Linked DNA regions of Homo sapiens. The protein of the gene in region 2 purifies or fractionates together with the protein of the main gene of each other region. This does not show direct contact. Each region holds a gene or a part of one and is shown on either strand. Other genes may lie near its edges.

Region 1 (3,500 bases), on a different chromosome or scaffold from region 2:
TCATGGGATCATGACTGGCATTTGGGGGTAGGACAATCCTTCATTGGGCAGGAAGGACTGAACTGGTTCCCTGACACCCATTCAATGCCAGCATCATGCTCTCACTGGACAGCCAAGATCACCCTCAGAGATTTCCAAAAACCCCTAAGGGTGGGTGGGAATCTCCTCAGCTAACTACTCAGGTAGAGATATAATCCCCTAACAATTTTTCTCCAAACTGTGAGCAAAAGCACAGATGGGGCAGGGCACGGTGGCTCACACCTGTAATCCCAGCACTTTGGGAGGCCGAGGTGGGCAGATCACGAGGTCAAGAGATCAAGACCATCCTGGCCAACATGGTGAAACCCCATCTCTACTAAAATACAAAAATTAGCTGGGCATGGTGGTGGGCGCCTGTAGTCCCAGCTACTCGGGAGGCTGAGGCAGGAGAATTGCTTGAACTGGGGAGGCGAGGTTGCAATGAGTTAAGATTGCGCCACTGCACTCCAGCCTGGGCGACAGAGTGAGACTCCGTCTCAAAAAAAAAAAAAAAGCACAGATGGACTTACCATATTCAGGGGTACTCAAGTTTTTCCAGTGTTAAAGATTAGTATAAAATCAAGGTGGCACCAGTCTTGGCCCTGGTTTGCTAGTCCCTGGTGGTCTAGCTTCTGTACCATGGCCAGAGGCAACTCTTTCAGAAGACTTGGCTTAGAGTGGAGCTTTCTTTCAGTAGGAAGACACTGTTTGCAGTAAGGACTTCCTTTTGATGTTAGAGAATTAAGCCTAAAACCATTAGCAAAGGAGAACCAGGTACACAAATGTACTTGCACACGCTTTTATGGGGTGTGGAAACCATCCAATGCTGTTCAGTCCACTCCTTTCCCCCACTTCACTCCTTAGCAGCTTGTTAGAACTGAAGCTTAAAATGGTTTCTGTTGTCTTGCAGCCAGCCTGCAGATCCACAGTTGGCCTCCCTCAGGGACTCTCTGTTAACCTGTTGACAGGCAATAGTCAATTAGGAGCATTAACCAGGATCTGCCAAGTTTGCCAGGACAAAGGTGGCAGTCAATAAATGTAGAAGTCTATTGAGTTTAAGATATAATAATGGCTCAGACATCTGAATGAACACCAAGCACATTATTATAGTGCAAGGACACAGTCAAATCAGATATGCAGTGGACTTTGGCTTTCCAATAAATACTTTCATTGACCAGTGCACAGAAGGAGGTGCATGGGCCCCTGGTTCTGCATGTAGTATGAATGTGTAGAACTGGAATTGAAACAGTAATAGGTATAGGATGGGATTTTGTAAGAATCATCCATTTGTCATATGTTCAACAAACATGTACCTGAGCACTCCTGCTATGTAAGACCCTGTCCAGCCAAACGTCAAACTAGAACATTCTGGGTCATGTTGAAACCGGGAACAGACAAATATTTACAATGTGATTGCAGAAATTCACCACAGGCTCTCACAAGCAGTTCTTTCCTTTCACTGCTCCTGATTAATCTTCTCTCTAGAACTGACCCTTATAAAATATTCCAGACCCCCAACTGTGGTCTGATGGAAAGGAGACTGGGCAGGAGCTCAGAGGACACAATTTCAAGTCCTTAGCGGGGTGACCTTGAGCAGGTCAACATCGGCACCTCAGTTTTCCATCCCTAAGAGAGGTAACATCTGCCTTGCTCTTCTCACAGGATCACGGTGAGGGCTATAGAGACATGATATACATGTCAGAGCTTTGTAGACTCTAAGAGAGCATTTCCCCAACAGGTAAGAGGCAAACACTGTTCCTCAGGATGGAAAAAAAAAACGGGCCCAAGCTCAAAAAAGATGAGTGCTGGATTAGACAAGGTTAATCAGGATGGTTTCTTTTCTTTTCTTTTTTTTTTTTTTTTGAGAGACACAGTCTCGCTCTGTTGCCCAGGCTGGAGTGCAGTGGCATCATCTCACTGCAACCTCTGCCTCCTGAGCTCAAGCAATCCTCCCACCTCAGCCTCCCTGGTAGCTGGGACCACAGACATGTGCTACCACACTCAGCTAAGTTTTGTATTTTTTGTAGTGACGGGGTTTTGCCATGTTGCTCAGGTTGGTCTCAAACTCCTGGGCTCAAGTAATCTGCCCACCTCAGCCTCTCAAAGTGCTGGGACTACAGGCGTGAGCCACTGTGCCCAGCCTTACGCATCTTTAATGAACTAAATAACACATACACTATATGAAATAAATGTACCCAGAGTGATTCTTCACGAGAGAGACACTGTGACGTAATTTCCCAACCCTTTCTTAAGGACACCCAGCAATTCAATGTTCTGAAAGCAGTGTGGGAAAATGCAGCTGTAAGGTATTAGATTGTTCTCAGCAGAAAAGCAATATGCTCTTACCTGTCCTTCACTTTGTTCACAGGCTAAGGAAGCAAGAAAGTGGAGGGGCGGGCAGAGCCAGATCCAGTGGTTTCACTCATGCAAGACAGAAGTCACTGTCTATCCTGTGGCTGGAGGGGCTACTTTGCTCAGAAGACACAGGTCTTCCCCAGAATCTCACGTGGCTGCTTACTGTTTCCCTGTCTTCTCTCCCCATTTTGTCCTTTGCTAAGGAAACTGAACTGAATTCCAGGTCTTCTCTAATAGAGTGTCTCTCCTTCAACAGGGAACAAAACTACAGTTGCCTGTAGTTTTTGCTTCTGTTCAGTCTCCATCATGGCATGCCATACTCTCCTGGTTTGTGCCCTGCTTGTTTCTTTACTGCCTTCCTGCCTGCCCTTTCTGTGCTGGAGGCTCATCCCATTCATGCTCAGCCCTCCTCGCTGTCTACACTGTCTTCTTGGGCAATCGTATCTAGTCCCAAGCCTTTTTAAAAAACAAGCTCTACCCATCATGGTGGAATTCCTGTCTATAAAAGGGCACACCTTCAGACCTCCAGGCACCTCCAGAGAACAGTGCTGTGCACAAGAAACCGAATTCAGTTGTGTGGGACCTGCAGCTGCAATCAGGTTTCAAACTCCTACTGAAATAACTAAGACTGCCCTTTGCAATCTTGAAGCTTATATAATAATTTTAAGTGGTATAAAATAAATCAACATTCAAAGCAGGGATAGCTAAACATCCCAGTGGTTTCCAAATTCTGTTTAGTCTCTATATAATAAATACCCAAGGCAAGACCAACAAAGAGGCAAAGTCTGATGTTTTGGGAAGATTTGGACAGAGAAAGGTGGGTTCCCTTGCATCTTCGCAGACATTTCCGACCCTTCCTAAAACTCCTCAAGTTCATCTGGCTCAGACAACCTCTTCCAATACTCTGCTTTTTGCTAATGAAAGAAAAGCTAAATCTTGGATCATAAGCAGCATCTACAGTTTCAGTGCAGCATGTCTGCTGACGAGAGGTAGCACTGCCAGCTGCATCTGAACAGCATTCTCCTGGAGAAAACTGAAACAGAAGGGCGGTTCATTCTCAGTGGTGGATGATGAGCAGGTCTCCTCTGTGGTGTGCATATGTGGTTTCTAAGTTTTATATGATGACA
Region 2 (3,500 bases):
ATGGGGGCCAAATCGAGTGGGTCATGACAAGTGTCAGGAAAAAAAGGATTAGAATAGAATACATTAGAAAATAGTGGGTACCATTTGTGTCATATCTCTGTATATAAAGGACATACATTTTTAAATTTCTATCTGAAAGAAAAGTTTCCGTTCACTAGATTGTGATCAATGCAAAATGTATTCTGAGTGCTCGGTGCTGTCAGCAATGCTGAACTTCCCTATGAAAATTCCAATGACATTCTTTACAGAATTAGAAAGAACAATCCTAAACTTTGTATGGAACCACAAGGGACCCTGAATAGCCAAAGCAATCCTAAGCAAAAAGAACAAAGATAGAGGCATAGAAACGGACATATAGACCAATGATCCAGAATAGAGAACCCAGAAATTAACCCGCAGTTTTACAGCCAGCTGATTTTTGACAAAGGTTTCAAGAACCTCTTTGGGAAAAGAGTGATCTCTTCTTCAGTGGACGCTGCTGGGAAGAAGCTGAATGTCCAAGTGCAGAATGAACGGGGCCCTAAACTACCCCTCACCCAGCACAGGGACCAACTCAAAATGGATGAGAGGCCTAAATGCAGGGCCCAAGACAATAAAATTGCTGAAGAGAATATAGGCAAAACGCTTCAGGACATTGGTCTGAGAAAAGATTTTATGAAAAGACCTCGAAAGCATAGGCAACAAAAGCAATAATAAGCAAAGGGAATTGTATCAAACAAACAAGTTTCTGCACAGCAGAGAAAACAACGAACAGAGTGAAATGAAGACAGCCTATGGAATGAGAGAAAATATTTGCAAACTACTCATCCAACAGGGGATTAATATCCAGAATACACATGCAACGGAAACATCTCAACAGCAGAAAACCATCCAACTTAAAAACGGGCAAATGATCAGAACAGACGTTTCTCAAAAGAAGACATACAAAATGCCAGCAGCCATCACTGATCATCAGGGAAATGCAAATCAAAGCCACAGTGAGGTATCAGCTCACCCCAGTTAGGGTGGCTGTTATCAAAAAGATAAAAAATAACAAATGCTAGTGAGGATGCAGAATAAAGGAAACTCTTACACACCGTTGCTGGGGATGTAAACCCGGACAGCCGCTATGGAAAACAGTACGGAAGTCCCTCCACAAACTACAAATCGAACTATTGAATACCATATGGTCCAGTAATCCCACCACTGGGAATCTGTCCAAAGGAAAGGCAATCAGCCTGTGGAAGGGATGCCCGCACCCCATGTTTATCGCAGCACTGGCCACAATAGCCAGGATGTGGAATCAACCCAGGTGTCCAACAACAGAGGATGGATAGAGAAAATGTCATTGGCATGCACCGTGGAATACTATTTAGCCATAAAAAAGAATGAAATCCTGTCACTGGCAGCAACACGGACGGAACTGGGGGACACCGTGTTATGTGAAATAAGCCAGGCACAGCAAGTTAAACACCATATGTTCCACTCATATGTGGAAGCTAAAAAAAGTTGATCTCACAGAAGTAAAAAGTAGAACAGAGGATGCTGCAGACTGGGAAGGGTAGGGGAAGGGAGGAATAGGGAGAGTTTTTTTTTTTTTTTTTTTTTTTGAGACAGTCTCTCTCTTGTCGCCCAGGCTGGAGTGCAATGGTGTGATCTCGGCTCCCTGCAACCTCCACCTCCCGGGTCCAAGCGATTCTCCTGCCTCAGCCTCCCAAGTAGTTGGGATTACAACTGTGTGCCACCATGCTCGGCTAATTTTTTTGTACTTTTAGTAGAAACAGAGTTTCACCATGTTGGCCAGGCTGGTCTTGAACTCCTAACCTCAAGTGATCCACCCACCTTGGCCTCCCAAAGTGCTGGGATTATAGGTGTGAGCCAATGCACCCAGCCAGGAGAGATAGGAGGAATAAGCTCCAGTGTTCTATAGACTGTAGGATGACTAGAGTTAACAATAATACATAGTTTCAAACAGGTAGGACGATATTGCATGTTCTCCACACGGAGAAATGAGCAATGTTTGAGATGATGGTATGTTAATTATTATCCTGCTCTGATCACCATGTATTCTATGTATCAAAACATCAGTATGTATCTCATGAATATGCACAATTATTATTTGTCTATTTAGAAAAATCAGGAAAAAAGAAAAAAAAAGTCGAACAATGATCCACGCCCACTCTCTATTGCACAAGGGAAGGCTGAGATTCAGAAAGGGGAAGGGGCTTGCCCCAGGCTACAGGGCGTCAGTGCCCAGCTGGGCCAGCGCTTCTTCTGCTCCTGGCACCCCCACTTAGTGAGGAGCTCCCAGGCTCTCCAGGGGACTCACCCCTATCTGCCTGTCCCCTGGGGTGGGTGCTGGCCCCTGCGGTCGCTCCTCCCCGCCTGTCTCTGTCCCCTGGGGTGGGTGCTGGCCCCTGCGGTCGCTCCTCCCCACCCGTCTCTGTGGGCTTGTTGCAGTAGACACTCTCCTCTTCCCCAGGCAGCAGGGGGTGTGGGTAGTAAGAACTGCCCAGGCACTGCCACCACCCGCCCACCTGGCCCACGCTGCACCTGCGTGACTCCCACCTGGATCCGCTCCATGCAGTGTTGGGGGGACTTGGCTGACACGCACTGGATCTCTGGCTTGAGCCGCTGCCGGCGGAAGGCCACGGCCATGTCTCCACACTTCTGGATCTCGGGAGTGGAGAGCACACACCAGCGCAGGTAGGGGGGCAGCCCTGGGGTGGGGCAAGCAAGCGGTCACTGCCAGGCCAGTACTGCCATGGAAGAGCATGGAGTCGGACCCAAGGGAAATTCTGGGCCTTTCTCCTGTCAGGTGTGTGGCTGGGATAAGTTATTTAACCATCGGATCCCACTTCCTCACACAGAAAAGGGGCAACTGTGAGGCCTGAGGAAGACCATGGCTGGCGTGCATGTAACTCAGTGTGTGGTACCCACTTCCCTGGCTGGAGGTGGAAGATACATGGGGCCAGGGGGCTAAAGGCAAGAAGCTCACTTGTAGACTACTGCAATAGTCCAGGCGAAAGATGGCACCTGCGCCAGGGCTGTAGCCATGGGGTAGAGGCGGGGAGTAGGAGCGAGAGGCTGTAGAAGAGCTGACAGGATGCCATGGCCGTGGATGGGGGGGCGAGGAGACCCTTCCCAAGACAGATTCTGATGGTCTGCATCCTCCCCCGCTGCGGCCAGGTGGGGCTTCCGAGGTACAACAGGCCATACAGTGGAAGAGATGCCTCCTCCCCAAAGCCCCAGGGGCAGAGGAATGGAAATGACAGGTTCCCGCAGAGGCCTCCCTGGTGAGCGTCTTCCCCCGGCCACTTTCCCAGAGAGCCTCGCCATGCCCGAGGTTGAGCTGGGCTGGAGCTGGCAGCAGTGGGGACAGGTGGACTTACGGTTGGGGTCACAGAGCAGACCCTTCATGGCGTGCAGGTACTCATGGCCCAGCCACGCCTCATAGGTCTGTGTGGCGATGGGCACAAGCTCCGAGGTAGAGTCTTTGAAGAGTAGATCCTTCTGGCCAT

Evidence for each region.
Region 1: the proteins of MELTF (region 2) and SLC25A15 purify together in Homo sapiens (affinity purification with mass spectrometry; one large-scale study listed by BioGRID and IntAct). This does not show direct contact.

What each region holds. Positions count from the first base shown.
Region 1 is NC_000013.11:40,799,611-40,803,110, reverse strand, and holds part of SLC25A15 (mitochondrial ornithine transporter 1), read right to left. Parts: exon of another isoform or gene 2,387-3,500; intron 1-2,386.
Region 2 is NC_000003.12:197,012,818-197,016,317, forward strand, and holds part of MELTF (melanotransferrin isoform 1 preproprotein), read right to left. Parts: coding exon 3,372-3,500; intron 2,700-3,371; coding exon 2,548-2,699; intron 1-2,547. UniProt on the Homo sapiens protein: Involved in iron cellular uptake. Seems to be internalized and then recycled back to the cell membrane. Binds a single atom of iron per subunit. Could also bind zinc.